Regions from separate parts of the Homo sapiens genome. Here regions 1, 3, 4, 5 and 6 are each reported to be linked to region 2. Evidence: microRNA targets listed by miRTarBase, many of them from high-throughput screens and not tested one by one. Region 2 holds a microRNA gene; each other region holds the end of a gene's coding sequence.
What was found. Region 2 holds the annotated microRNA hsa-miR-124-3p (UAAGGCACGCGGUGAAUGCCAA, at 3,330-3,351, opposite strand). A microRNA usually pairs through its seed, bases 2 to 8, with sites in the 3' UTR of a target mRNA and lowers its output. Matches are read on the target gene's strand: a 7mer-m8 pairs with bases 2 to 8, a 7mer-A1 pairs with bases 2 to 7 and ends in A, and an 8mer does both.

Region 1: the mRNA of BABAM2 is a reported target of hsa-miR-124-3p. The part of its 3' UTR that is shown has no 7-base or 8-base seed match.
Region 3: the mRNA of TMEM128 is a reported target of hsa-miR-124-3p. Seed matches in the 3' UTR shown: 7mer-m8 at 2,252-2,258.
Region 4: the mRNA of SPTA1 is a reported target of hsa-miR-124-3p. The part of its 3' UTR that is shown has no 7-base or 8-base seed match.
Region 5: miRTarBase lists ZFYVE26 as a target of hsa-miR-124-3p. The part of its 3' UTR that is shown has no 7-base or 8-base seed match.
Region 6: miRTarBase lists GALNT3 as a target of hsa-miR-124-3p. The part of its 3' UTR that is shown has no 7-base or 8-base seed match.

The regions. Positions count from the first base shown.
Region 1 is chr2:28,337,597-28,342,684 of GRCh38, reverse strand. It overlaps BABAM2 (BRISC and BRCA1 A complex member 2), which reads right to left. Exons shown (of 12, transcript NM_199191.3): 12 at 3,784-4,235. The coding sequence ends at 4,172. Among named protein-coding and RNA genes, the nearest start is that of BABAM2-AS2, 30 kb to the right of the region's middle. RefSeq lists an enhancer at 2,096-2,715.
Region 2 is chr20:63,176,814-63,181,902 of GRCh38, reverse strand. It overlaps MIR124-3 (microRNA 124-3), which reads right to left and starts at 3,403; the gene lies at 3,317-3,403. RefSeq lists a silencer at 2,619-2,908 and an enhancer at 3,196-4,156.
Region 3 is chr4:4,233,502-4,238,590 of GRCh38, forward strand. TMEM128 (transmembrane protein 128) reads right to left here. Exons shown (of 5, transcript NM_001297551.2): 4 at 4,326-4,434; 5 at 2,041-2,755. The coding sequence ends at 4,335. Among named protein-coding and RNA genes, the nearest start is that of OTOP1, 9.1 kb to the left of the region's middle.
Region 4 is chr1:158,607,044-158,612,132 of GRCh38, reverse strand. SPTA1 (spectrin alpha, erythrocytic 1) reads left to right here. Exons shown (of 52, transcript NM_003126.4): 52 at 744-1,429. The coding sequence ends at 869. OR10Z1 (olfactory receptor family 10 subfamily Z member 1) reads right to left here. Exons shown (of 2, transcript NM_001004478.2): 2 at 1-5,089. The coding sequence ends at 4,753. Among named protein-coding and RNA genes, the nearest start is that of OR10Z1, 4.3 kb to the right of the region's middle.
Region 5 is chr14:67,743,831-67,748,830 of GRCh38, reverse strand. ZFYVE26 (zinc finger FYVE-type containing 26) reads left to right here. Exons shown (of 42, transcript NM_015346.4): 42 at 192-2,309. The coding sequence ends at 395. Among named protein-coding and RNA genes, the nearest start is that of RDH12, 44 kb to the right of the region's middle.
Region 6 is chr2:165,744,025-165,749,113 of GRCh38, forward strand. It overlaps GALNT3 (polypeptide N-acetylgalactosaminyltransferase 3), which reads right to left. Exons shown (of 11, transcript NM_004482.4): 11 at 3,564-4,879. The coding sequence ends at 4,757. Among named protein-coding and RNA genes, the nearest start is that of GALNT3, 48 kb to the right of the region's middle.

The sequences.
Region 1 (5,088 bases), not on the chromosome of region 2:
GCGTGGGGGGTGGGGAACCCCCACAAATACATCGCATCTCTTATCCGTTAAAATTCAAGATGACTCATCATTTTGTCTTCCTGGTAATCCAGACAGGGTCACTTTTCCAAAGGCCAAATTCATTGGCAGGACTTTTTAACAGGGACATTCTGACTTTTTAGAAAAAGGCCAAAGTCAACATCAGAAAATCTTTTTTCTGGTCTGCGGTAATAATAGCCACTGTTTGTCAAATGTTACTGTGTGCCAAGCACTGCACATGGTGCTCTAGGTACTTTTCTTATTTAATTCTCACAACCCCGGGAGGCAGATATTTATTCCCATTTTATAGATGAGGATAACAAAACTCAGATTAAGTAAAGACAGACATTGGGGCCAGCTCACTCCAGCAGAGGCTCCCACGATGACCCTCCCTGCTCCTCCCAACTCTGCGTCCAGTGACCTCACATTGGTGGCCTGCAGTCCATCATGGGGGGAGTATTTACACCATAGAAATTGGCAAATTGTACAAACCAAGGTCCTTCTCTTTTTTTTCCTCTCTCATCCTCAACTTCATATTCTTTCTAGTTCATGTCTCCACAAGAAAATGAGCTTTAATAGAGCATCATTTGAGGCTGGGCGTGGTGGCTCCTGCCTGTAATCTCAGCACTTTGGGAGGCCGAGGTGGGCGGATCACCTGAGGTCAGGAGTTCAAGACCAGCCCAGCCAACATGGTGAAACCTCGTCTCTACTAAAAATACAAAAATTAGCCGGGCGTGGTGGATTACAGCCGTGTGCCTGTAATCCCAGCTACTCGGGAGGCTGAGGCAGGAGAATCCCTTGAACCTGGGAGACGGAGGTCGCAGTGAGCCGAGATGGTGCCACTGCACTCCAGCCTAGGCGACAGAGCCAGAGTCCCTCTCAATAAAACAAAACAAAAAAAAAGGGTCATTTGGCTGTAGGCGATGGGTCCTCAGGAAGCCGGGCTGCTGGAAGAAGCTGAGCATTGGCTAACCAGGGTCCCTTGCCCCTCCTTCTCGGGGCCTCACAGATGCTTGATCATATCCAAGTATTGCTGGTAAACACGTGTGAGTCCTTTTCCTCATCAGTGCTAAGCAAGAGAGATTCAACTGAAATTACAAGGGCTGAGTAAGCCGGAGACAGGATTTACTAAGTATTAATAATATGCTGTCACATATGGTTCTTTTCATCTTCAAAGCATTTTATAGCCATTTACTAATTAGTCTTGGGCTGCCCTCTGTGTGCAGGTACGATGCTCGATGACAGGCTGAACCGGCAGGAAGTATTTACAAATATACAGGTGACCTTCACTCGTTTACAGGCGCCACCGGCTTCTGTTGCTGTTGCGGGGTAAAGATAAAATCACGCAAACCCTGGTGTTTGAGTCCCTGGTTCTGGAAACATACAGTGGTGACTGTCACCTTGTGCTGAATCCCCTCTAAGAAAACCAGCCCAAATCCTCCCCTGTGGCAAGGAAGCTGAAAGTCTTTTAAAAATAATCATAAATTTCCATCTTCACAAACCTATATAACGTCCATCATCCTTCACTGGGAAATAAAAAAATAAGCTTCAGTTTGTTCACGAGAGTATCGACACACGTGAGAATTGTTGCTGGAGGGGAGCCAAGAGCCTGGATTTGGTCTTGGCTCCGGCCCTGACCGGCCGGTGATCGTGGGTAACTCACTTAACTTCTCTCATCTTCTGTTTCCTCATCTGTGGAACAAAAGCAACCCTATTCAGTTGCTCACAGCCCAGGTCTGCTGTAAAGCTGTGTGAGCTAATGTGTGTGGCAAAACTTCTGAGTTAGACTGTGTGCTTCGCTGATGGGCAGGGTCTCATTCGTTTTCTGGGTCTGTGGGCCCCCAGGGGCTGGCAGGGGCAGGAGGATGACATTCCCAGACCACACTGCCCACTACTGGCTGCTGTCACTGCTGAATGCTTATTTGAAATGCTGAGGGGACGACCAGTCCACAGGACCTCACCCCCTCCCACAGTGCCAACCACCATCTGCTAGAAGTGGAACCAGTAAGAGTTGACTGAGCCTGGGCTTGCTTCAGACCCAGTTGCAGCTCAGAAGCAAGTCCGGGCTCAGTCAACTCTTGGTGCTGTGCACAGTAGAGCCCAATCCGTACCCCTCCATCAGGGGAGGGTGCCCCTAGCAATCCTAAGTGACCATGCCATGGCACCTTAGTGGGGGATGGAGGGGACATGGGGCATAGCACACAGCTGCCCTGAGTAGAGGGGCACCTTCTTGTGGGCACTCAGCGGGTCAGGGTCAGAAGCAGTGCCAGTGTGGTCAGCTGGCTTAGTGGGTCATGATCACTTGCTCAGTAGAATCGCTGGGGGAGTTTTATCAAAATCTAGAAGGCTAAGCTCCAGCTAGTGAGATTCCAAGTCAACAGGCCTGCAGTGGGAACTACCAGAGCAGTAGTTCCTAAAAAAATCTCCCCGGGTGATCTGATGAGCTGAGCCCACAATCCAGTCCAGCCCCCTCCTAGTATTAATATTATGGAGAGGAAGGGACTTACTCAAGGCCACATAGCCAGTTAATGGCAGGGCTGGGATATGGACATAGGACACTGGACTGTTGTTCTTGTCCTGGGAATTCCCAAAGTTTCAGGGTAGGGGGCATAGTACCCACACGGTGAAAAAACCCAGAGTTGGGCAGGCCTCCAGCTGACAGGCAAGATGGGAGGTCTGTTCCAGCTGATCTCCAGCCTCCTGAGAACATTCCTGGGTGCCAGAGAACACAGGAAGCAGAGGCACGACTTCTCCTCACCAGTCTTCACAAGGGCCCAGGGATGGTTCTCTTTTGCGCTCACCTGGTAAAAATGGGCTCCAATAGCCACGAGGGGAACTAAGGGACCAGGTGAGAGGCCCTGTAAAATCATGTGTGTGTCCTGCAGGAGGGGCCAGTGGCTTCGCCTTGGAATGGGAAGGCCAGAGGGTGTCAGGTCGAGCACCCAGGCCAGCTCTTGCCCTCACCTCTGTGGGTGGTGCGTGGGCCCTGCTTCCCTGTGTGGAAGGCCATCAGGACAGGACCATGCTAAACCAAACTGTAAACCTGGTGATATGGCCAAGCCGACGGTAGCCATCTTGTGTTTCAGCTAAGCGAGTGTGTGATGGTACAAGGAGGCCTGGCTCCAAGTTCCCAGGTTTGTTCCTAATTTGCTGTTTCTAATTTGCATGTTTCCTTAACTCTTGGGCCTTAGTTCTGTCCTCTGTACACTGAAGGGAGTAACGGGGTAGAAACGAGATGACTTCTGAAGACCCTTCTGGCTGTGATGATCAGTAAGTTCAGGGAAGATGTCGCCTGCTCAGGGTATCTTCCCCAGCTCTGTTCCTGGCTGGCTGCACAACTGCCAGTCCCCAAGCCCAGAAAGCAGACACATTCCTCTGATAAACCATGACACCCAAGCTTTGTCTTTGTGTATAATTCACACAGTGCTGCAGAGGCCCAGAGGGGATGGAGAGGGGAGAGCCGGAAGGACAGAGCCGTTGGTGCACTCACCAAACTTTAATGACTGCCTACTGTGTGGGGCTGGCCTGGGAACAAGGTGTCCACACAGGGGGCTGGAGGGGTATGGATGGCAGCGGGTGGGGCTGTGTGTGCTAGAGGCCATTTGTTATTGAGCAACAGCCTTAGGTCAGGCTGGATGAGTGGCTGAAACCCAGCAGGTTGGTCACATTGACTCAGGTAACTCCTTCTCGCCGTGAAGGACTGCCCCAGATAGGAAATGCTTGGGTATGAAACACACACATGCACGCACAGAGGGAAGACACTAGTTTCAGAGGAAGAACAGCGAGGGGCATTTAATCTTAGAACTTAAGAGGTCTCAGAGACAAAGGCTTTGGAAGAAAGGCGTGGGCATTCCTGAGGCTTTACTTTCCCCGGAAAATTACTGCACCATAATTTGTGAGTTTATTTCTTCCAACTAAGAAATAGAGGCAAGAAAGAGGGAGTAACCCGAAGTGAAGGGCTCTAGGATCCAGGGACCACCAGCCAGCTCAAGTTGGATTTCAGCAGTCGGGGCTGCCTGGGGCGTGCAAAAGCTGCTGTGTGAGCAAAACGCTGCCGTGAAGACATTCCAGGCGGCTTCCAGGAAGCGGCTGTATGTGCTGACACGCATGTGGACAGGCAGTCTGGCTGGCCACCTCTCAAGACTGGTGTTTCCTAGAGCTTTCCATTGGCAAATGCTGCCTCCTGGAACTGAGGGACAAAGGTTTTGAAATAAGCCCTGGTGGGAAAGAAGGGGAGAAAAAAAATTGTGGTTAGCACAAACAACTTGAAACAAAGTGCAACTGGGAGCTTTCAAGCTAACTCAGAACAGTTGTTATTTATTGTTCATGCATCTTGGGTTGGATTTGCCTTCTCTGCTGAGGCAAAGCCCTCCGGATTTTTCCGAGGAGATGCATGCAGTTCACTACTGTGACATCTCTCAGGAATATTCAAAGGGCCTGTACGTGCACCCTCCTGGCTGCCAATTCCTATGAGATATCTGCACTTAGGTCCGGCTGCCTTTTTTCAGGACAAAGACAAGGGCCTGGTCCAAGCTACAAGACAGTGTGTGTGCAATTGAACCACGCAGTCATTTAGTGATCTAGAGTATCAGGAAGGTTGCATTTTCCACTCAGTTGGACCTTTGACTTCATAAAGACAAAGAGGGTCTAATAAGTTTTTTAACACATTTGATTTTTTTAGAGACAGGACCTCACTCTGTGAGCCAGGCTGGAGTTCAGTGGTCCAACCACAGCACACTGTAACTCTGACCTCCAGGACTCAAGTGATCCTACTGCCTCAGCCACCCAAGTAGTTAGGACTATAGGTGTGTGCTACCATGTCAGCAATTGTTTTTTCATTTTTTCACAGAGACAGGGTCTTGCTACATTACCCAGACTGGTCTCAAACTCCTGGCCTCAAGGGATCCTCCTGCCTCGGCCTCCCAAAGTGCTGGGATTATAGGCCTGAGCCACCACACCCAGCCCTAATAATTTCTAAATGATTCATGGGCTCCATTTATTTCCAAACGCACATGCAGTCTGGTCTACTGGAAAGAAAGCTAGGCTGGGTGTTAAGAGAACATTTCCCAG
Region 2 (5,089 bases):
CCAGGGCTGCCTCTGGCCCATGTCCCTGGCTAGCGGTGACTTGAGAAGACCCTGCTACCTTCCTGGCACCTCGGGACAGGGTCACCAAGCAGAGGCAGACTTCTCTGCTCTGTGCTCTCACTGTCGGGCAAGGCCTCTCCATCCCTCTAATAAGCTGGAGGGAGTCACCCTGTATCATTTCATTTTTTAGTTTTTAATTCATTCCCAAACATTATCCCCTATGCCCCACCCCACCCAGCTGCCAACTGTTCCTGGCACCCACAGCCCCAAAATAGCAGCTGGTCTGGGCACCAGGGGTGAAGGCTGGGCTGTGAGGGTCTGAACTCTGGGGTCATCACTGCCAGGAGCCCGGCTTATGGGCACGGCCAGGAGGCAGCCAGGGGCAGGGAGGCTGAGAGCCAGCTCCTAATCTCTGCCCTGGCCAGAGACCTGCCAGGGGGCTTGGACTTGAGGGGAAGGAGGGTGGGGGCTCCTGGCCAATGGCCACACAGGGAGCCCTACCTGGAGGTGAGATCAAGGTGGAGACCAGGGGCTGCAGAATAGAGGGACTGGCTGCCCTGGCCCCTGCTGATTGTGGCCTGGCCCCTGCAGCTCCTCCCACCTCTGCTGCTCGTGGACCGGGGGATTTGGAGGAATTTCAGAGGGGACTGTGGGGCCTGTGGCTTCAGCCTCAGCAGCTTTATTAGGTTTTATTCAGAATAAAAATCTTTGGGTCAGGGAAGGGATGTCTTCCTCTGGTCCCACACTGGGGAGGGCCCTGCTGGATAGCCCTGAGCTGGCCTTGCTGGGTGTCATGGTCTGGTCAGAGGGTGTCCCAAGCCCTTGGCTCAAGTTTGCTGTCCACCAGGACCACTGCCTGGCAGCCGACCCAATGCAGGCTGGGTGCTGAGGATTCAGTTGGGGGTATGTGCCCAGCTCTTCCTGAGTGGAGGCGGGCAGTGTCTGTGTGTGCGTGGGAGGTGAGACTGTGTGAGCATGTCTGTGACTGTGGCTGCGGGTGTGAGCAGGAGGAGGAGAGGCTGAGCTGGACATGCAGGGCAGTCCATGTTGGCTGCAAAGCATGGTGATGGTGGCCCCTGCCCCAAGGGCCTCTCACTGAGGCCAGCAGCTCAGCTGCTGCAGGTCCGAGTGGACCCTGTGGCACATGGGGCCCTCCCCGCACTGCGGCAGACGGTGCTACAGCTATGGTAAGGCCTGGCCCAAGAAGGTGCGCACTCAGCTCTGCAGCTCCTTCGCAGTGAGCTTCCCCCCGTGTGCCCCATACCTACTGGGCTGCCCACCTTCCTGTGACCCCCTGAGCTCCAGCCCAGAAGCCACAAGTCTGCCCTGGGGGCTGGGGCCCAGGTGCACCACTGGGGGCAGGCATCAGGAGAGGTAGCTCCCTGACCGTGACAGAGTCCAGGAAGCTCTTCCTAGGAGACCCCACAGAGACTGACTGTCTAGGGACAGTGCCAAGGGCAGTTTGCCCATGCGCTCCCACCAGCTCTCAAGTGTCCCCCTCCCCAGGCTACTGACATGGAAGGTCCATTCTGGCTAGGAGCCAAGTCCCCTCCCCAGGAAGGAAAGTGGTACAAGAACAAAGCCCCAGCCCCCATCTCTGGCCCCAGAGGAGGGAGCAGCCAGGGGCCACCTTCCCTCCGAGGGAAGGGCCAGGCTGGAGGTCAGAGCTCCAAGAGGAAGCTCCAGCTAGGCTAGGGCCACATCTTGTACCCCGAAGGAACACCCCACTCCCACCAGTCCCTTTGGTGTTGTCCTGGAACGATCCTGGGGCCCCTTCCCCTTCTCTAGGACCAGAAGTGCCCCTGGGGGATGCTGCCTGTCCCCTCACAGCGGGAGGAAGGAAGAAGGGGACGCCAAGCCCCGGGGTCAGTGTTGTGGTCAGGCCGGGGCTTGCTGGGGCTGCCTATGCCACTTCTGTGCCCTCCAGGGGGAACCTGCCCCTGAGGAGACTGGTGGACCGTGTTCTGACTCTGCCTGGCTGACTGGGGTGGGGGTGGGAAGATGGAGGCACCAGTGGCTCCTGCTTGTGTCTGCAGCAGGCGACTTGGGTGGAGGGGCTGGAGGTCTGTGCTGAGGACAGCCGCAGAGGCAGGTTCCCTTTGTGGCCCTGCAGCGGCGGTGGTGGGGGTGGAGATGCCACTGCCTGAAACTCAAATGGTTCCTTTTATCCTGATCTTCTGCTCCCTGCCTTGGGCCTGGAGCTGGGAGAACTTCAGGTGACTCAGACTCCTGCCTCGGATTGAAGCCGGGGAGGAGAGGCTCAGCCTCTACCTGGTTAAGAGGAAAGAGGCAAAGCTGCAAAGCCAGGTCTGGCACTCGCCCCAGGGGAAGGGGGCTTTTGGGGAGGGGGTCGTCCTCTGACTGTTACCGGGGCATCACAGCCCAGCCGGGGCCTGGGATGGGCGCGGGGGAGGCGGCGCAGAGGCGGTGCCGGGCGTCAGCAGGTGGCGCTGGCTTCCGGGGACAGAAAAAAAACCCCTGCAGCAAACCCGAGTGGGTGTCACTGCGGCTGCAGATGGCGGCGGGGGAGGGATTTGTCATTTTCTCCCTGGGCTGCGGAGTCTCACGTGCCTGGTCCTGCACAGCCCAGAGCCGGCTTTGGGGGCGGGATGCGGTCCGGCGTGTCCACCGCCCTCGTTTGGACCCTGGACGCGGACGCAGACCCCCGTCCCCATGCAAGCCTGGTCCTGGGCTGCGGGGGCTGCTCTGGGGCCACAGCGAGCGCCGCCTCCGCCCCGCCCCGCGGCGCAGCGGCCCGAGGAAGGGCAGACTTAGCGGTGACCTCAGACCCTGCCCCACCTCCTCCCACGTTGCCGTGGCAACTGTCCAGGGCGCCCGCTGTGGGGGCGAGGGCCGCACTTGGCCGCCCTCCCGTCCCGCGGGGGCCGCCCCGCCGCCAGCACCGCGGACAGCGCCGCACCCTAGCCCGCCGCCCCACGCACCCGCCCGCCGCTCCCCGTGGACCCTCCCTTTGTCTCCCGGGCCCCGCCGCCCTCTGCGGGCGCCTGGGCGCTCCGCGCTGCGGACACACGTGGCCGGGGGCCGGCTGGCCGCAGCCTGGCCCCGGCCGCAGGCTCCCCCCTCGGCCGCCCTCGGCCGCCCCCACCCGCCCCGCGACGCCAGAGGCGTGCGGGCCCCTTTGTGTCCCGCGGCCAGATCCCCGGCCCGGCAGCTGGGCCGCACTCTGGGCGGGCGCATTGTTCGCCGGATTTGTCCGCGGCGCGAATGGCCGCCGGGGGCCGGGCTCGCCTTCCTCCCGCGGGAGGGGCGCTGGGCCGGACGGGCTCGCGGGCCATTTCCATGAGAAAGGAGCGGCGGAGGCGCCTCTCTTGGCATTCACCGCGTGCCTTAATTGTATAGACATTAAATCAAGGTCCGCTGTGAACACGCAGAGGGGCCCTCAGGGCTGGGGCGGGCGGCGAGCGTCGGGGCCAGGGTCGGGACCGGCTCGGGCTTGCGTGGGGTCCTCGCCCGAGGGGCGCGAACGCTCAGGCGTCTTCGCCGCGTGGCGGGCAGGGCGGGGGCGCTGCGCTCAGCCGACTGTGCTGTCCCAGTCCGCCCCCGACTCGGAGGAGCCCACACTTCTCCCCTTTCCGCGGCAGAGAGTGGGCCCCCAAGTGCGTCCCTCCGGGCGTTCCTGGAGCTGGGGCGCCCGGGAATCGCGAAGACGGATTCCGGGGGTGGGGGTGGTGAGCGCGTGCGCACCCGGCCGCCTCCCGCGGGGCTCCGAGGGGCGCAGAACCGCTCCGACTGGGCGGCGCGAGCTCCTCCGCAGCTGCCTTCCCCTGCCGTCGCCCTGCCCGTGCCGACCCAGGAGCGCGCACCGAATGCGGTTAAAAGAACGAATCTCGATGCTCAAAGATGAAAACTCGTCTCTTTTTACAACCCAGCGAGCTCGTCCTCTCCGCGCGCAGCGGGCCCGCGAGAAGGCGCTCGAGCTGTTCGTGGAGAGAAAGACGGGGAGACCCAGAGAGGCCGCTTGCCCGGCTCGCCCCGGCCCGGCCCCGAGCGTAATTACCAGTCCCGGCGGGAGCCGCTGCTGCCGCCTCCGCTCCCTGCGCCTCCCGCGCCGCCGCCAGTTCCCGCCTGCTCTTCGGCTCCCGGGGGCCCCGCGCGCTGCTGCCCTGGGCGGAGAAGGGCGCGGGAACCCCGAGAAGGGAGCCAGGCAAGTCCCCGAGCGCCGCAGGCCGGCTGCGAGCCGAGTGTCCACGGGGTCCACGCTGCAGGCGCCCAGCTCCTGCTAGCCCGGCCCGGCCCCGATGCAACTGTCCCCGCGCCCGCCGCCGCCGCCGCCGTCGCCGTTGCCTCCGCGCGTATCCGCGCTCCGCTCCGGCACCGGCCGATTATCACTGGGGCGCGCGGTGACGTCACCCGGACACCGGCCCCGCCGCTGCCTCCCCGAGGTGTCCTTGAGAACTGCGGGGCACGCGCGCCGCGCACACGCGCACACACGCACTGCGCGCCTCGTGCCTCCCGCGCATTCGCACCGCGTCCCGCCCCGCGCGCTCCTCGGCTCACGCGGACTCAGCCATCGAGCGCCCTCGACCGTGCCCTGCGCCCGGCGGCCACACGGAGACCCAAGGAAACGCCTGTCTCCCACACACTCCAGCCCCTCACATGGCCCTCCTGCACCCACGCGCGCAGCCCCTCCAGCTGCACATTGACACCTCTAGCCACACCCCGCCACGCGCACGCCTCGCCACGCGCACGCCTCGCCGGCACGCAGCCCAGCGGCACCCGCAGACACGCACCCGCACTCGGGCCCTGACCGCGGGTTCGCGTCTCCTGTCTGGCGCCTGCAGAACGCACTCTGCCGCGCAGCTCACACCGCGGTCCTCCAAGCCTCTCAGTCCTGAGAAAGGCAAGGGTCCCGCCGGCCTCCTGCGGATGGCCCTGCTGGGCTCCGTACAGTGGGGTGGGAATTAAAGGTCGTCCTTCCCCGCCCCCATCGGAGCTTGCGGTTCTCACAGTTTCAGACCGGGATGGGAGCTCTTGCCCGTAGGGACCACGGAATCACAGGCGACACTCCACGGCCCGACTGCAGTCACTGCCAGCTCGATAGGGTCCTTGGGGCGCCCCCGATCTGGCC
Region 3 (5,089 bases), not on the chromosome of region 2:
TTAGGAGGAGCCAAATCAGGACTGTAATGATTTCCCATCAAAATTCTCCCAAAATTGCCCTTGATGAGAGGAATAAGCAGAAGCACTGTCATGGTGGAGGAGGACTCTCCTGAAGCTTTCCCAAGAATTTTTTGCTAAAGCTTTGGCTTCCTCAAAACCCTCTCATAATAAGCAGATGTTACCATTCTTTGGTCCTCCTGAAAGTCAACAAGCAAAGTGCCTTGAGCCCCAAAATACTGTTGCCATGACCTGTGCTCTTGACTGGTCTCCTTTTGCTTTGACTGACCCGCTTCCACTTCTTGGTAGCCATTACTTTGATTGTGCTTTGTCTTCAGGATAGTACTAGGAAATCCATGTTTCATATCCTGTTGCAACTTTTTGAACAAATGCTTCAGGATCTTGATCCCACTTGTTTAAATTTCCATTGAAAGCTCTGCTGTTGTTTGCAACTGATCTGGGCACAACAGTTTTGGCGCCCATCAAGTGGAAAGTTTGCTTTCAGTCAGAATTGTGTAACCTGAACCAATTGAGACGTCTCTGACACTGTCTATTGTTTCTGCTATTGCTAACTGCTGTTAATCATCAGTCCTCTTTGATTAGGGCATAAACAAGATTAATTTTTTCCTCAAAGATTCATGTGTAGGGTCTCTCACTGAGGGCTTCCTCTTCAACATCATCTCATACCTTCTCAAAACAAGTTATTCATTTGTAAGCTGTTGATTTCTTTGGGGCATTGTTCCTATAAACTTTTCATGAAGCATTAGTGATTTCACCATTTTTTCACCCAAGCCTCACAATAAATTGATGTTTGTGCTTGCTTCGATTTTAGCAGAATTCATGTTGCACTGATGTGGTCTCTTCTCAAACTGATGTCTTATCCTTCTTAGTGTCTCAAACTAGATCCTGTTCAGACATGTTATGACAAGTTAAAGACTCTGTCTCAAAGTCTTTTTTTAAGTAATAGGATAATCTTCATACCATCCTAATTGGCCAGTTATTAGCTCTTGGGAAACTGGGTTTTAACTAATTGTTTTAAACACATCCCAGCCTTAGATTTCTATCCATGTTGTAAACATACTCTTCAAGAAAAAAAAAAAAAAAGATATAAAATGTGTGAAGGCTGACACTGGGGCACTCTCCACCCAAGCTCCCTCCAGGGAGTCTGATCCAAATGCCCTACCTTCCAGGGCTGCAGCCTCAGTTGTACCAGACCCTCACATCACTGCCTGATTAATCACTGCCTGACTAGGCTGCCTGATTGTGGCCTTTGCCTGGCCTTGCTCCCTATTTTAAATGACACTCTCGCCACACCTTCACATACCCATGACCACAAACTGGGTTTGCTTCTGTCTACTCATCATGCCTTTCCCCTTTGCAGACATCATGACCGGATGTGATATTCCTGATCCTAGATCCTGCTTTCCCTTTCTTTCCCTCTCCATTACCATTTATTGAGTGGACACCTACTGTGTCAGGCACTGTAATTGGTGTTTTACAAACATTATTACTATTACGCACAACCCTACAAGACAGATATCGTTCCCACTTCACAGCTGAAAAAAGATTACAGTCTGACTACCCCTTCTCTGAAATGCTTGGGACCAGAAGTGTTTTGGATTTTGGAATATTTGCATTATATTCCAAAACCCAAAATGCTCCAATGAGCATTTCCTTTGAGTGTCACGTCAGTCATCAAAAAGTTTCAGATTTTGAAATTAGGGATACTAAACCTGTACTACTGAAGGTCTTGCAGCTAGTAAATGGCAGGGTATGATCTGAACCAGACACAAGTGGTGATTAAGTCAGGTCATTATTAGAAGTCACCTTACAGAGAAAACAATCAACATGAGATACATTCTGTCACAATGCTTATGCTGCTTAGATTTAATGTAGACATATTGGCATTTGAAAGTGCAAATACTGTCTTTATAAGGTCTTTGAAGAACAGAGTTAGCCCTTGTTATTGCTACAGTTAATTCAAAGTGCTAATAGCTAAAAACCAGAAGTTATTCCAAAGTTCGCATGAACAAAACTCACAAGAAAGTTATAAAAATATTTTATTTAAATGATACAGAAAAAAATGTATACTTAAAAGTGATTAAAACTTCACATTAGGAAATGCTAAAAACCCAGTAATGTACATAATGATAAAATCTAAAGTGATGAGAAAACATAAAATATTTTCATTTGGTCCTGTCACCTAACAAAACTATCATAAATATGAGATTATAGTAATTACTAAAGCTGGTTAAAGGCACATGACAACATAATTCCTTTATACACATCCAGTCATTTTATACAAGGAACTGCTATCCCTTAAATGGAAGAGTGAACTACTTGTTTAAAATATTAACAGTGCACTATGTACCTACAATGAAACCACTTTCTCCAAAGACTCAAACAGATTAACATTGCAAAATAGTACTTCTGTATCACTGACTTCTGAAAATTTTAATAATTTATGCATATGCAAGTGAAATATAATTTATTCTGGTTTCAACAACAGTTATACAAAGTCACAATTTTCCCCAGGAAACCATTCACTTCATAGCTGCAAAAACACACTGTAGCTTTTCTGTTAGGGTCTGCCATGCTTTCAGCTAGCTGGATGTTTAACCATTCACTTCAAATTTACATGTCCAGCCAGGCACGGTGGCGTGGGCCTGTAGTCCCAACTACTTCGAAGGCTGAGGCAGGAGGATCACTTGATCCCAGGAGTTCAAAGACAGCCTGGGCAACATAGAAGACCCTGTCTCTTAAAAAAAAAAAAAAAAAAAAGTGTATGTCCTTAAATCTGAAAGAAAACCAGCATTTATGTACCAAGTAAAACATTGTATCTCAAGCTATTGCATTTAACACTAAAAAGCATAGTTCACTCTGTAATCTACAACATTGTCTGAGTCTCCATTACCAATTATAACTTCATGTCAGAGTAAGAGCTCCCAAACATCTGTAAAAACTCAAAATTCAAGAGTCAAAGAAGGGGCTGAGAACACGAGAAGGGGAGATGGGTGACAGGGTCAGGTGAGGAAGTGTTCTGAGATGTGTAGGATTCCTCCGGGCCCAAAGCCGCTTGTGGCACCACAGGTGTACAGGAATGAAGGGCCTCCTGTGAGGGTTCCCAGTGGTCCCAAGACACAGCAAGGTGCCTGAAGGAGGCTGGAGACATTGGCGTGGGCATGGAGGTGCTAGCAACTATTTTCAGACTGCTAACAATGAGAGTATGTCCATTTCTTCTTTACACAGTTACCACTGACCTTCCTTTAAAATCCCACAGGGAGAACATGCTGTTTTTAGCAGAAATGTCAGTTTTCATTAACTCCTTGAAAATTTAGCGTATTAACTTTTATTTCCATGAGCTTCAGTTTCCACACCTGTCAACTGCTGTATAAAGCAGGTTTCCTGCAAGTTCTGATGTAAGTGACCTGACAGGAGGCACTATCTTTGTCCTTCTCACCATGCCCCTAAGCATCTGGAGTGAGTATTCTCAATATACACTTATTTAATAACAGAGTTATCCGACACTCAGAAAACAGCCTCCACTGTGTAAGGCAGCAGATCTCAGGATGGGGTGATCTGTAGGGAGGCAGAAATTCTATAAATAACACCAAACGAAAGCTGATTGTGTCATCCAACACATTTTTATGAGGAAGTCAGAATAATTAGAAGATGGCAGAATTTTTTTTCCCAATTAGGTAAAATTGTTCATTCTTCCTGTATTCCCATTTCTTAAGAATGATCCAGCCAACAGTCACTGAATATAAGCTGACACAAATTAATATAATTTCAACATAAAATGGTCTAATGTGTGAATTCAACTATATTGGAAGGTACAAATCCTGTCTTTATGAGGTCTTTGAAAGGCAGGGTACCTTCTCTAAAAAGTAGTCACTTAGAACCAACTTTTACAAAAGAAAGAGTCTCAGCCCCCAACCCCCGCCAGCCTGGGCAACATAAGGAGACTCTGTTTCTACAAAAAAATTTTTAAAAATTAGCCAAGCATGGTAGCACATGCTTATAATACCAGCTACTTGGGAAACTGAGGTGGGAGGATTGCTTGAGCCCCCAAGTGGTCAAGGCTGCAGTGAGCTGTGATCATGCCACCGTACTCCAGCCTGGACAACAGAGTGAGAAGCTGTCTCAAAACAAAAAGGAGTCTATCTCAGAGTTCAATGAATGGATAATTCTAGTGTGGACAACTCTGGTGTAAACATGACTGAAAATAATTCACAAATAGTCTGTTACAGCTCCATCCACTGAAAATTGTCATAAAAGACATTTTTCAAACGAGTTCATTTTTAGAAAAACCACTCCAGATATCTTACCTTCGGAAATCATCCAAGGAGTGTGATAAACATGACAACCCCCATAAACTGGGTAAACAACAACAATGGAGTGAAAAACGACCACACATGCCATAAAGCAATGTTGAAGCTGAAAAGAACAAGACATAAACAGTTGACAACTCCAATATGCATCAATATATTTTATTCTAGAATCCAGATTTAAAGTATTCAATGTAGAAAAGTTCATCCAGTCAGCAACTTTCTCTATGTATCATATTTCTCAAGTATGTGACTTAGCCAATGCTGGAAAGGAAAACTCTAGATATACTTAAACAAGTATCACAATTTCTTCAAGAAGGCCCTGGAACTGGAACCACTAAAGGTCTCCTAATAGGGGTTGACATGGCTTAATAGAAACTGAAGTCTCTTAGTTTCTGACTTCAACAATAATTTAAATGGCTACAGCCCATTTTTATGACATCACACACTAAACTATCATGGTAAAAAAGACCAAAATATTGTCTCTTAAAAACAGAATGAAAACAGTTATCACTTATAAGCTGCTATTATATCTTTCATTGAGAAAAACACTATTCCTGTCATCAAAGTAAAATTAAAACACTAAGTATAAAGATTTTTAATGACTGAAATTTCTAAGAACAGAATAGGGAAAACTATATTCAAATAAGTTCAGATGGTTATTGGTTTTAATATATAATAGTTTGATAAGTATGAGTATTAAATAACTATAATCACAAATCACACTGTCTAAAAAATTAACATTTCTGGACATGATCTTACCC
Region 4 (5,089 bases), not on the chromosome of region 2:
GTAACAGAAAGTGAAAGGGAAAACAATTAAGCAGAAACCAGATTACAAAGGGTCACATACATGATGGTATCGTTTTGCACAAACTCATCCAATTGTCTAAACTCATCAAACTGTACACATTAAAGGTGCAATTCTTTATCAATCATACCTCGACAAAGCTGTTACAAAAAGAAAATGATGTGGTCTTCCAGACACTATCTGGAGCCACCCACCCACACGCTAACTTATTGGAGTCTTTAGGGATCCACTTGGTAATCAAACAGCACAGTGAATAGAGGAACTCTTTGGCATAAGAGGATCATAGGTTCAAGTCCCAGCTCTACCACTTTCTGGCAGTGTAACCACTGGTGAGTTATTCTACCTTCTTGAGTATTTTACCTTACTCATAAAACATGCTAGTCCCCACATCTCAAAGCAGCCAGGAAGATGAAATAGATCAAGTGGTCAACAAATGTTGTTAGGCATATAATTCCTTCTATTTAATAAAACAACTTTAGGGAATGAGATTTACAGAATAATCAAAGTGAGTAAGCTCTCTTTTTCAAGAAAGGGCTGAGATTAAAAGTTAAGTTACTCATTAGAAATTATAAATTTATGAGATAAAAATTGTGTGTAATAGAAATAGGGCTTGCGTCTTCCAGAGACTCTCCATCTCCTGCATTTATGGCGTAATATGGGAAGCCCCAAGGAACCAGCTATTTTGAATCCCTATAACTGTATTTTTCTCTTTTTATACTTTTCAGGCCCTTACCCCAGAGCAAGTGTCATTCTGTGCCACACATATGCAGCAATATATGGACCCACGGGGTCGAAGCCATCTCTCTGGCTATGACTACGTTGGCTTCACCAATTCCTACTTTGGCAACTAATAAGCAGCTCCTCGTGGATCGTAGAAAATCTTAGTGTCGTGGGAAATTTACTGGGGGGCAAAGAGTACAGGCAAATGTGGAAGATAAAGATGGCCTCGTGTGTGTGTGTGTGTGTGTGTGTGTGTGTGTGTGCTTGTGTTTGTGTGCATATTACATTTATTGTAGGATCTTAAAAAATCTCAAGGGTGGGAGATAGAAAGGTTAATAGAGTTGGAGGAGTGGAAGCTATTTTGTATGCAACTAGTCACTGCTGAGGGGTGTCAAAGTTTCTATTTTTATTTGTTCTGTTTTGCACGTCTTTATCATTTTGCTTTATTCCGATTATAGAATAAAGTAATTCTTTTTAAAAATATTTTTTGGGGCAAAGTTAAGTAAAATGTTGAGCTTCTATATTTCTGGGAACTGTACTCATATAAGAGTGGGCAGCTAATTTTACTGTAAAGAAGGGCCATGGTATAGTAGATAAATAAAATCCAAGGCAATTTTCAAACAATTTTTTTAAACTTTGGAATGTGTTTAAATTTAAATTTGAAAATAAAGATATTTGATTTTCTGGGGAACATGAATATTTTAGTTTGTACAATGAAACAACACACAGATCAGCATAACACCTGTTTTCTTCTTGTTTTTTTTCCATACTTCAAAATTATTGTAGATGTTATTACTCTCAGAAAGACAAAATTCCAGCATAGCAGGGCTTTCTCTTGTCCTCCAAGCTCCCGTATTTTCTCTTAAGTTTTAATGTAATAAAAATAATACTTCAATATCCTGTTAAAGTAACAGTTAATAGAATTATTTATAAAATTAAGAATTAATTTTAAAAAAAGAAGAGGTGATGCTATCTTCAAAAATTTTCAGGCCAGGTTTATTCTGAACAGGTTTATATGCCGACATTCTGATTTGATCTATAAAAGGTAATGGTGTCATTTGCTGGTGAGAATTCTTAGATATCTTAATTGCTGTGTATAAAACTGCTAGCGTTCTGCACAAATAGTCCCCACTTACCAATCCATTCATGTTGCCACTTGATTACCATCTTAAGTCTCAGTCCCTTCCTCTGCATAGAAATGAATCTGTGCAGGACAAATCCTGTCATAGGAGCCTTTTTTAAACAAAAAGTTGGTTAAAGCTAAAAAGTTATCATTGATACTAACAACATACAGGTATTTTAGTGATTCTTTTCTTAAATAGTCAAATACTATGGAATATAACAAGCAGAAAGTATTTTCAAAATTAATGTTCACAAATGTCTAAATTGCCTGATTATAAGTTACCAAAAATAGTACAGTTAGAAAAGATATAGGCCATCGAAAATTAGCATTGTTTAATATCACACTTACCACATATGGATAGTCTAAAACTATTTGTGCTGAAAATAATCACAAGCAAAGGTGGATGTGATTCCATTCCCCCAATGCTAACCCTGCCAAAAATTTTCAAGGCCTAAATCAAATTATTAGTCATTTAGTGGGTCAAATGTGTGTACCTGGAAGAAGAGTTTGCCCTTTCTAAGCGCGTAGTCACATACTTAATCAAGAGAGGAAATTTGAATCACCAAACGAGATTTTGAAGACTATTATGTTGTCCCTATCCCAAATCAATTGTTTCAAGGTAGAAACAAATTAGATAGATTCCAAAAACACCTATTTGGAAAAATCCCTCCAAGTGATTTTATACCCTTCCATACTTAAGACTACTACATGTGGAAGTTAGACCTCTAAGTATTACTTAGCAATACTTGAAACATCCTTACTAACCATTCGTCACTGTGCATTTAGTCAATGTTATGCTGGGCAGACTGAATGAACTGGTGAAATGAATTTGCTCACATGGCCTCAGTGCAATGAGGCATTACTTCTTCCAATATTGAGAACTTCAGAGTAGATGGCCTTTCTCCCCTGATGAGGCCCTTTTGGCTATCTGACTAACTCATCTACTTGTCTTCATCCTGTTCTCTTCTCTGAGCTCTAGCTTCCTTCCTCTCAAATTGTTTTCATCAAATTCCAATTAGAGGATGTATTTCTTTCCTGAAAGCATGAAAAAATATGGATTTCTGTCTGAAAAATATCTTCTCGGCCTAAGGTCTTTCCTTGTCTCTCAAGCCATGCCCCACTTCTATCTCACTGCCAAATCCTGTGAATTCTACCTTCTCAAAATCTCATGTTTGTGATTTCCTTCAGTCTCTGAATGTCACTATCCATATTCAAGCCTCTTTGCCTTTTTTTAAGCTGATATCCATGGGTTTCTTGCTGATCTCCTTGCCTCTGGTTTCTCTCTACTGAAATCTATCATCCCCTTTGCTGCTGGATTAATCTTCCTGAATCCCTTCCCAGATGCCTCTCTCTGTTCAACGTTTTACTGTGCCTTATCTCCTATAGACAAAAGGACCATGTCTGAAGCAAGGTATTCAAATTATTTCAACAAGTAAGTCATGACTCAAACTAACTTCTCAGCATCATTTGTGAGTTGTTTCCAGCCCCTCTGAATAACTCACACACATTAAACTAGGCTTATATTGTCTTACCATCAAGCCTTTGGCTATTACATTCTCTCTTCTGAGAATGTACTTTCTCCCCAGTCAGTGCATTCAAAGCTCACCCATCCTTTAGGAACAAGTTCAGATACTATTTAAGACATGAAGTCTTCTCTGATCCTCCACCTAGAGTAAACTCTACCTAAACTAAAAGCCAATATCTTTTTCCTTCACACATTTTAATAGTAGCAACTGGAATTTATTGGACGATCGCTATGATCCAAGGGTTGTGCTAAATTCTTTGTATGCATGATCCTGTTTAGTCACCAACCATTGTAAAGATAAGACTCGGAAGCTGAAAAAAATGTTAAATAACTTACCTAGAGTCACACAGCTAGTAAGTTGAAGAGTTTGGATTCAAACTCCTGCCTGACGGTCTTGTGAGTTCATTACACTTTCTCTAATAATGTCCGCCGCTATATATAACCACATTATATGTGGAAAGTGGAATAGGCAGAATAGATAGTTCTGCAATAGATTCAAAAGAACAGTATCCAATTTGATAAGCGACCCAAATGAGAAAGGTCTTTGACACTCAAGATTCTGAAGCTACCAGGGAACATTAACAGTTATAAAAAAAAATAGGAAGTAAATATATTTTCTGAAATAGAGTGCACCCAGCTTGGAAAATCAATCAAAACAAAAAGGGCAAAGTAACAGAGTCAGAGATAGTGAGGACAACTATATAAAAAGATGATTCCATGTTTTTGCTACTGTCAATAGCACAATGAGGAATGTATAAGCACATGTGCCCCACTGTATATGAAATAATAGTTGAAATTAAAAAAAATAAAAACATAAAAAGATGAAAGACACCCAGTGGGAGTAAAAATGACCCACCTGTTCATTTAACAAAGCTTTAAACTAACCTGTCAAGCTGATATTCCCCAGGTTTCAAATCTTGGAAGAACATTACAGGTCAAATAGTCTAATTATGTAATGATTTTAGAAATCTCTACAGTATCCCTGATGGGCTCCAGCCAGCCCTGCCTTGAACTTGAACACTCCAAACTTCCCTCATTTTGTTCAGCTCAATTAAAAAATTCTTGATTATCTTAATTAAATTTTTAATTCTCAATGGGTTTCAGTAACTAGGGGTGGCATCTAGGAGGCTGAAAGTTAAAATTCAGATTTTGGGCTCATTTTGAGTTGTGCACAGTGAGCAGAGCAGGAAGCCCCGCCTCTGCATTCCAAGCAGTCAGGGGGAAGGGCAAGAGGCAGGATAAGGCTTTCCCAGAAGATTGGGGGTAGGACAGCTTTGGCCTGAGGCCTTGAATACCTGGCCCTTTGGCTTGGGTTCTTGGTCTATGCCCAGCCTACACAGAAGAAAGTGTCCTATTGGGGTAACCTTCATCCTTTACCCAGCAATCTCCCTCTGAAAGCATTCCTCAGAGCTGTCTGTATAGCCCTATTCCTTAGACTATAAACAATGGGATTAAGGAGGGGGGTCACTACAGTATAGGTCATGGCAATAAGCTGATCTCTCTCAAGAGAGTAGCTGGCTTTGGGCCTCAGGTACACGAAGGAAGCACAGCCATAATGAATAATGACCACTGTAAGGTGCGAGGCACAAGTGGAGAAGGCCTTCTTCTGCCCCTCAGCAGAGGGGATCCTCAGTATTGCTGCCAAGATGTAGGCGTAGGAGATGGTGATGAAGAAGAAGGAGACCAAGAGGACCAAAAGACTG
Region 5 (5,000 bases), not on the chromosome of region 2:
ATAACACAGTGTTATAGCATATGTCCAGAATATTGAAAGAGTTGTTATAATACCATAAAATACATGAATCCTGTTATGAACGTGGCAGGTGAGACATGGTGTCTGTCTGCCCGAGCTTTCTGCTGCAGCTCTGTATACTTGATTTGTCGGTGATGGATGCCTTTCCGCTGTCTCTTATAACTGACTGCCAGGTTCGGGCCTACCTGATATGTTGCAAACTGCGTTCTGCCTACTTGATTGCTGTGAAGCAAGAACACTCACGGGCCACAGCCCTTGTCCAGCAGGTGCAGCAGGCCGCCAAGAGCAGCGGGGATGCAGTAGTGCAAGACATCTGTGCCCAGTGGCTTCTGACAAGCCACCCCCGGGGTGCCCATGGCCCAGGCTCCAGGAAGTGACCTTGGGCAGTGGGGCCAGGAACACGTGGCCTGAGAGCTGGGCAACAGCAGTGATGGCGATGCCCTCCACCTCTTTCCTCCAGTGGAGTGGGACTTCTCTGGCTCTGCCCTAGGTTGGAAAGAGTTGGATTGGACCCTACTTGCCTTCCCGGGCAAGGATAGGACCTTTCACGCAAGTGCCATGTTTCTCTAAAATTGTGGAATCTATGTGTGTTTGTCTGGAGATGGCCAGTTCTTTCTACCTCAGAGTGAGTGAGTGAGTATGTGTGCACACACGTGTGCATGTTCCTGTGCGCTGATGTTTACGCCCAAGCATTTCTGAACAAATGAAACTCTTCTCCATTTAAAAGAGGCACTTTACTTTAGACTTGCCACTCTGAAAACCTTCCCTGCGTTTTGGTTCTTGACCCGGGTTGTCCTGTTTGTATAGTCCCCCCTCTGTGGACGTGCTTTAGTAGCTCCTCTTACCTAGAGGGCTTTTACAGAGAATTAGAGCAACACCAAAAGGATTGCCTCTTTTCCTTCCTTCCCATTCCAAAATTCAGAGATGGCTTTGGGGCAAGTGCTACCTGTGGAATAAACCTGTTTTCCAGGTGTCTCTTCTCCCAAGCACAAGAAGTCCTGGAGTCTTTGGAAGGTAGTCTGAATAGAAGGGTTTTCAGGTGCAGGCATCTGAAAGCTGTGGGTATGTGTATAAATGATCAGGTCTGTGAGGCTAACACGGGCAAGAGGGAAAGAAAGGCTAACCATCCAAACAGGGATACAGGGGAGGCGGTGGGGGGTGGTGGGGGGAGCGGGTGCTCACAAGCACAGAGCTGCCTGTTGTGAATGTCCCTGCTGCAAAGTTGGTGGGTGAGAGAATGGGACTTCCTCTTTGAGAGTCTGGGGAGAGAAAAGGTGGCCAGGATCCTAGGACTGAATGACTCGATTTTACCTATTTGAGCTGCAGTCCTGTTTGCGCTCCTTGAATTGGTTAGGAAGCTGCTTCCTTTTCCCTCCTGCTTCCCTTCAGTCTCTTCAGGACCACAGGATGGATATGCAGACATGTGGGGTCATTGGGAAGGGAGTGCGCTTCTTTTCTCTGTCTTAGAAAAGGGAGTCAAGGGTTGGCTTTGGAATTGGGCCTCTGGACAGAGTCAGAATGAGGGAATAATGAATAGGTCACATCTGGTTGGTGGAAAACTAGGTGAAGTGCTTCTTTAATATGCACTGTCTTGTCTTCCCACGCAAGATGTGACAATGTTTGAGAAAAGGTGTGTCATACTCAGTGACTTCAATTTGCAAATGTGGGGCCTAAAGAAAGCTCTGCAGCTCTGAACCTCTCACTGGCCAGAGCTCAGCCTATTGGTCCCATCCATGATGCTGAGACAAACAGAAACTGGAAGCTGAAGTCAGTGTCTCTGGTGCTCAGAAACCCTGTGGATTTCCCTCTGAACCAAGATTTTTAGTAGTAAAATAAACAACTCATGGACATCTGTCAGATGAGAAGTTTTGGTCCTGTTAGAGAGGAGAAAGACTGTAATGAAACTACTAGACCCATTTGGGCTAAAGTTTGGCTTTTCCTTCCTTGAGTCATAGAACGTATCCATCTCCCAGGAAATGTCCTTCTCTGGCGTCTGCTTGCCCTTCTGAGTCTGCCTTTTTTGCACTGAACATAAGCACTTTATACTAATGGGTCACAAATCTTGCAGCCCTTAATTTGGGATAAGACCAGATTTTCCTGACATTTTCCTCTAACTCATTGAACTATCAAATTATAGGCAACCACTGACTAGACTGATATGAGATGAGGCTAAAAGCCTTTGAACACCACGCTGTAGTCTCCAACAGAAAAACACCACCAAAACAGATACCCATGTTGAGGGGTTGAATGTTTTACTACAAACAAGCCACAATAAAGTGTCTATCAACATGTTTCTTGGCTTCATAACTTCTTGGTGCTGTCTTGCTCCTACCCTTTGCATCCTTTTTCCTTGTGGAAAGAAAAGGGAGTGGGGAAGATCAGATGGCCTTCAATTCAGACTTAGTCTAAATAATCCCCATAATGACTAATGACTTTGCTTAGGATTTATCTCATTTCCTATGTGTTTAAACACTGTTAGTGCACCCTCTACCACCAGAAAACTTTTTTTTTTGCTTCAGTTGGGGGATGGGTAGAGATAGGTAATACGTTTATAAGGTGCAAAAGGTAAGTGAAAAGTCCCTTCCACCCTGTCCACCCAGCCCAGTCCCCTCCCAGAGGCCACCATTGTTATCAGTGTCTAGTGTACAGTTCCAGAGCAAATGACTAAAGTGTTCCACTGTGAAGCTATACCACAATTATTTAACCAGTTTCTAATGATGGACATTTTATGTTGTTGCCATCTTTCGCCACTACAGATTATGCTGCATTGAATTATCTTGTTCAGAATACCAAATTTTCTGGATCTATGCTAGTCCGATGGGTGAAAGGTTTCTTCTTTAGTGAATTTTTTTTTTTTTTTTTTTTTTTTTTTTTTTTTTTTTTGAGACAGGGTCTAGCTCTGTCACCCAGGCTGGAGTGCAGTCGCCTGGCTAATTTTTTTTTATTTTTTGTAGAGACAGTATCTCACTATGTTGCCCAGGCTGGTCTTGAACTTCTGGGCTTAAGCAATCCTGCCTCATCCTCCCAAAGTGCTAGAATTACAGGGCTACTTCCCCTGGCCCTGTGCCCCAGCCCTCTAAAATGCTTTAAAAAGCTGTTGTCATTTTAAAAGCTCTACATATCTTTTCAATATCAACCAAATTGTCAATCTTTGAAACCAGGTGTAGGGTCTTTGGGGCAAGCAGAACTCAAACTTAGCTTAAACTGTTTTCTTGCCACCCACTTCAGGCATATGTTTGCAGTATGATACTTGAGCCATGGACAGTGGCATCACTGCTCATTATCTCCTTTCCCCGGAAACATGATCTCATCCAATTTCTCATGTGAAAAAAAAAAAACAAACTATACTTTGAGGGATCATTTCTATAGTTCGTTACTAGAGAAGTTTCTCTGAATGTGTAGAGTATGGACTGAAGAGCTTCTGCACAGCAAAAGACACTATCAGAGTGAACAGGCAACCTACAGAATGGGAGAGATTTTTTTAAATCTATCCATCTGACAAAGGTCTAATATCCAGAATCTACAAGGAACTTAAATAAATTTACAAGAAAAACCAATCCCATCAAAAAGTGGGCAAAGGATATGAACAGATACTTCTCAAAAGAAGACATTTATGCAGCCAACAAACATGAAAAAAGCTCATCATCACTCGTTATTAGAGAAATGCAAATCAAAACCACAATGAGATGCCATCTCACGCCAGTTAGAATGGCAATTATTAAAAAGCCAGGAAACAACAGATGCTGGCGAGGCTGTGGAGAAATAGGAATGGTTTTACACTGTTGGTGGGAGTGTAAATTAGTTCAACCATTGTGGAAGACAGTGTGGCGATTCCTTAAGGACCTAGAACCAGAAATACCATTTGACCCAGCAATCTCATTACTGGGTATATACCCAAAGGATTATGAATCATTCTACTATAAAGAGACATGCACACATATATTTATTGCAGCATTATTTATAATAGCAAAGACTTGGAACCAACCCAAATGCCCATCAGTGATAGAATGGATAAAGAAAATGTGGCACATATATACCATAGAATACTATGCAGCCATAAAAAAGAATGAGTTCATGTCCTTTGCAGGGACATGGATGAAGCTGGAAGCCATCATTCTCAGCAAACTAACACAAGAACAGAAAACGAAACATCGCATGTTCTCACTCATAAGTGGAAGTTGAACAATGATAACACATGGAGACAGGGAGGGGAACATCATACACTGGGGCCTGTCGTGGGTGGGAAAGAGAAGGGAGAGCATTAGGACAAATACCTAATGCGTGCAGGGCTTAAAACCTAGTTGACGGGTTGATAGGTGCAGCAGACCACCACGGCACATGTATACCTATGTAACAAACCTGCACATTCTGCACATGTATCTCAGAACTTAAAGTAAAATAAATAATAAATAAATTTAAAAATTAAAAAAGATCTAAAAACAAACAACAGTAATGATTAAAGTAGACCTGAAAACCACCTGGTAGTAGACGTAGCACAAAGATATGTCACAACAGAGAAAGTTGGAACACCCACTCTAAACCTAGGATAGATGACTGCTATATTTAGAAACCTGAGACACTCCAAGGTTACCAGATATCTTTGGCTGGAGCTTAAGCAAAGTAGATCAAAGGCTATTAGACTCTTTGAATACCCAAGCAACCAAATATCGATAGCCACAGTAACCCCAGAGGAAATGGCCTTTTCCTGGCCTTCATCTCTTATTCCACAGTGATAATGTTGACTGACCTATCCTTGAAATGTTTAGTTCTTCCACAACAAATTCATTCGATGTCTGGTCACTGAATGGCTTCTTTGGTGGAATGCTTTCCTGCTCGCTAATTCTGCATGTTGTTATTTCTTCTTGGAGCCCTTCCTTCAGCACCTCCTCTACCCTACCCTCAAGTCTACCATTGTCAAACCTCTTCCCTCAGTCCTGCATCGAGTGCCATCTCCTGTACAGATTATTCACTTCTCTGCCTAT
Region 6 (5,089 bases), not on the chromosome of region 2:
TGTTAGAGAAGATATAGTTTCTAGTGATGACCAGGGAATGTGTGGTTGAGGGAAGGAAATGTGGTTGTCAAATACAGAGAGCTCAGAATGCTGGAGTTATCTGCACCAATAATGAAGTCACCCATAGGGTGACACAAGTAGAGGTATAAAGAAAGAAAGGCCAACAGGAACTAAAGTATTCAATTAATGCAGGGAATGAATTAAGATAAATGACCTATAAATTCATGGTTGACAGCAGCACGAAGGGGTAGAGCATAATATATCCACATGACACGGCTTCAAATAAGCTGGGGCATTTTTGAAGAAGGACACACCTATCCCAAATCCTAGCCTTGAAGTGCAAGAGGAATGATAGAAAACAAAAACAAAAAACAATAACCCTCACTAGAATTGGAAGATTTATCCTTAATTAATGTCCAGTTCAGTTAAGGCAAGACAATACGTAGAATTTTCAGAGACAAAATTGCTGATATAATAGAGTTTTCTAATCAAAGAAGTTTGCAGAGTAGAAGGTTATCAGAAGGTGGGGGATTTATCAACTTAGAGATATACAAAGGATGTAGGATCTGCCAGGGAAGAATAATGATGATAATGGTTGATAGAGAGGCATTGACTTCTGGTCGTACTAGAAGTAATTATGGATGTCAAGCATGGTCAAAGTCATCATGGTAGTCTCGAAGAACCCTGGGCATTGGTTCACTGGGTAGCCTTTCTATTCAAAGCGCGGTACCAGGGCCAGCCGCTTTGGTATCACCTGAAAGTTTGTCAGAAATACAAAATTACAAGCTCTACCCCAGGCTTAATCAATCAGAATCTTATTCAATCTGATTGATTCTTAATCAGAATCTTATTCAATCTGATTGATTCTTAATGAATCAAAATCTTATTCAAACTGATTGATTCTTAATCAATCAGAATCTTATTATTGTGTGTACAAAAAGGTTTAAGAAGCATTACTTCAATTATTTACCTCTAAAATATGGGGTGCCTGTTTTCTCCTCTAGCTCCTGTCAGTGGACTCACCAGAAGTTGAATATGTTGACTTCATCATGGGACTATTTCTCTTTAAAACATCATTATGAGACCACATTGGTGACCACATTACTAAACTATAACTTTCTCCGCCTTCAGATGGGGACTATTTTGTATATTATTAGTGCCTGGTGCCTAATAAAATCCCAAAAACAGACACAAAAAATTTCCTAGGTGTTGTGGAAGCCTAGAGAGCGAGAGGGACTAGGCGTGCAGGAGGAATCTCTTTTGCAGTTGGGCTGGTGATGTGGAAAAAGTAGGACTGTAGGACTGGAAAAGGGAAGATTGGGTAGGTTGATAATTTGGAAAAGGTAATTAAAATATAAATTCATAAAAAGATGTCAAATATTTTAATTTAAAATATACACACTACACACACACACATACACACTACACACACACACACACAATGCCACATTTGTATGTGTATTAATTCCTTCACAGATATTCTTTTGTAGGGCCCAAGGCCTTTTATCTGAGTATGAACTGGTTTCTGAGAGTTCTGCAAACATCTTCCTTGCACAAAGCATACTAAAAATGCATTGTCTAAAGATATTTATTTCTGCTGTCTTTAAAGTGAATTGTGAAGCAATCTGAGTACAGAATCTGCCTAGTTTTTTGTTTTCCCTATCTTTTACAATTCTCATCTACACATAACAGCATTTTAAAAATGATTTTTTTCTAGTCCTTCCGATAAAGTCAACCTTGTCCTTTTTGCACTTATATTTTGATGGTATATAAAGTACTTAACTAAATTGTCCAATACTAGTCTCTGGTAATATAGGGGCTTAAAAAATCCATCATCATTGGTTATAGTAATGGGCAATTTTAGTGTGTTGCTTATTTTCTCCTATAGTTAACTCTGTGATCCCCTCTCAGATTTCAGTGAACTTGCCCATCAGGTTAACCCTAGTGGATCTGGCAGTGCAGCTTACCAACCGAGAGTTCTTAGGACTTGGTGCTCTGGAATGAAGGCAGCATGCCAGGTCTTCTGTAGCAACCAGACCATTTGCCATGGCAGCTTCAAATTGAGCAAGAATTCCACAATTTCACACTTGAGTGCAGTTAAGTCTCAGGTGGATGGCAGCCAGGTTCCATAAATAACTCTCGGTTATCATTGTTCCAAAACTCAAGACTTTTAAAAGGCACTACCTACCCTAAAGGTCCAGTCCTTAATGACATGATTTGTATGACACTTGAGCAATAGCCTGAGGCTGCCAAATCAGGTAAGAAGGACTTTCCCATAATAATATCAACCTACTCTAAGTAGATTTCAGTTGGATCATGATATATCAACATATGAGTGATACATGCAGGGCACTCACTTTGGTTTTTTTGAAAATATGTTTAAGTTCATTTATGAAATATTTTTGAGAAATAATTTTGTGTTTAGAGATATAATAAGCTCTAAGAGAAATATATGCTCATAGATATTCATGCCTAGTGGTACTTACCTTCTACTTTAAAATTATTTGCCTTTCTTTCTGACCCATGAGACATAGCTCAAAAGTAATAACAAGTCTTACTCTGCCTACCATCACTTCTGATATGGTTTGGCTGTGTTCCCACCAAATGTCATCTTGAATTGTAGCTCCCATAAATCTCACGTGTTGTGAGAGGGGCCCAGTAGTAGATAATTGAATAATGGGGGTGGTTTTCCCCACACTGTTCTTGTGGTAGTGAGTAAGTCTCACGAGACCTAACGGTTTTATAAGGGGAAACCACTTTCACTTGGTTCTCATTCTGTCTTGTCTCCCTCCACGTAAGACATGCCTTTCACCTTCCGCCATGATTGTGAAGCCTCCCCAGCCACGCGGACCTGTGAGTCCATCGAACCTATTTTTCTTTATAAATTACCCAGTCTCAGGTATGTCTTTAACAGCAGTGTGAAAACGGGCTAATACAACTTCTGATAGAAAATTAGGCACATAATACACATTAGTTGAAATAATCAACTGGAGAATGTAGGCTTTTTTTTTTTTTTTTGAAAGAGTCTTGCTCAGTCACACAGACTGAAGTGCAGTGGTGTAATCATAGCTCACTGTAGCCTCGATCTCCCAAGCTCAAGCAATGCTTCTGCCTCACCTTCCTGTATAGCTGGAACTACAGATGCGTGCCACCACACCTAGGTAATTTTATTTTTAATTTCATTTTTTAATTTTTACTTTTTGTAGAGATGAGATTTTGCTATGTTGCCCAGGCTGGTCTGGAACTCCTGAGCTCAAATGATCCTCCCACCTTTGCCTACCAAAGTGCTGGGATTAGAAGCTGAGCCACCATGTCCAGCTCAGAATGCAGGCTTTTTAATACAAATTCAAACTTACAAACAAACAATGAGAAGATAGGGTCAATAACCAGTATATGCTCTTTTTCGTACAGCTGAGGCTCTGCCAGATTTAAAATATGAAACCGATCGTATTTTACTTCGGGAACAAGAATACAGGAGATCTAAATATAAAATGACGAAAAACAAAAAAAAAAAGTGGTAAATCTCCTAAGCAAGCGTCAAATTTTTTTAAAACATCATTCTATCAGATGCTTAAGGAACTTTATCAGAAATTAATACAAAATTTTCTAAATATTGAACACAGGAATTTTGCTATTCCTCATTTTTTGTGCCATAAGAAATATCTGATGGTTTTACAAACAATAGGCGCTTAGAAATTCAGCATACAAAATTCATTTTCCCCCACCTATTATCAATTACAGATTTTACCCAAAAGAGGAAAAAAACTTAACCAAATGATTACAATAGTGTTGAGGATTTTTTATTGTGTTTTCCACATAGATAAAAAAATAAGGCTTTTTGATGAAAAGAATCCATTACAAAGTCAAAAATCCATTACAATTATAATTGAATCAGTAACAAAATTTAGCTTTAAATGAGTCAAGTATTCTGCATTTGAAATTTAATATCACAAACATTCAAGATTAGTGAATTTTGGTAAGAAAAAAATACTAGAAGAAAGGAAAAGGACACCTTTTCAACAGATAGTAATTTATAAAAATTTTTTTAAAAGTGCTTTGGGAAAACACACAGTATCATTACTTAAGAAAAGTCATTTAAGGAAGACTTAAGTGCTTCAAGTGGAGTGTATTACAGACTAAAAAATGTTTTAAAATTTGCCAAGAAATTTAAGTGTTAAAAATACTCTTCTCCTTATTCAGTTTCATGTTTAAGGAAACATTTGACAGACAAGTAAACCAAACGCAAAAAAAAGTTCACCTGCATTTTAAACTAATAAATTCTGGATCTGTAAAAGCTCTTGGTTTGTACACAGAGGCCAATGCTGACATTTATTGATCTATTTTTATGTAGTTAAAAAAATACAGTAACAAATCTTTCTTCCTATCCCCCCAAAAAACTAGGGGAAATATTTTAAATTGTGAGTGTGTGAATGTAGCTATATATATATATCCCTAAGTGTACAAAACACACAAACATCACTTTACTTGGAAAATTATTTTCATCATACTGTAAACATCTCTTCCCCTACATCTGGACATTTTGAAATAGTCTTTGGTATTACTAGTTATTGTGCTTTGAAACAGAAACTTGCAGAATTTCTGTAGTAGTGCTACATAAAGATATAAATAAGAAAAATGCACTTGGAATAAGTTACATTTAGCTGCTTTTGCATAATTTTCAAAAACTACAGTGTATGCCTAGTCACAGTTTTATGAGAAAGAATATTTCCTTTTTCAACTTAATTTTAAGGAACACTTAATCATTTTGGCTAAGTATCCATTTTTGGAGTGGATCTGATGGGTTGCATGACACTAAACTTGGATGCTCTCCATTTGCTGAAAGGCACATTTTTAAGAATGGATTGTATAGAAGTTGATCCTAGAATAAAAGGAAACAACAGACATTAAATTCCAAGACTCATAGTTAAGTGACAAATATGAAAAAGATTTTATGGTTTCATTGAAGCAAACCTAATAGCAAATCTTTCTAAGGTGAGCCATGTCTGATAAACTCTTTTTGGCTTCTAGTGTAAATGCCACCTTTTAAGCTACTACTCTTCAATTAGTAAGATATTACATAATGAAGAGA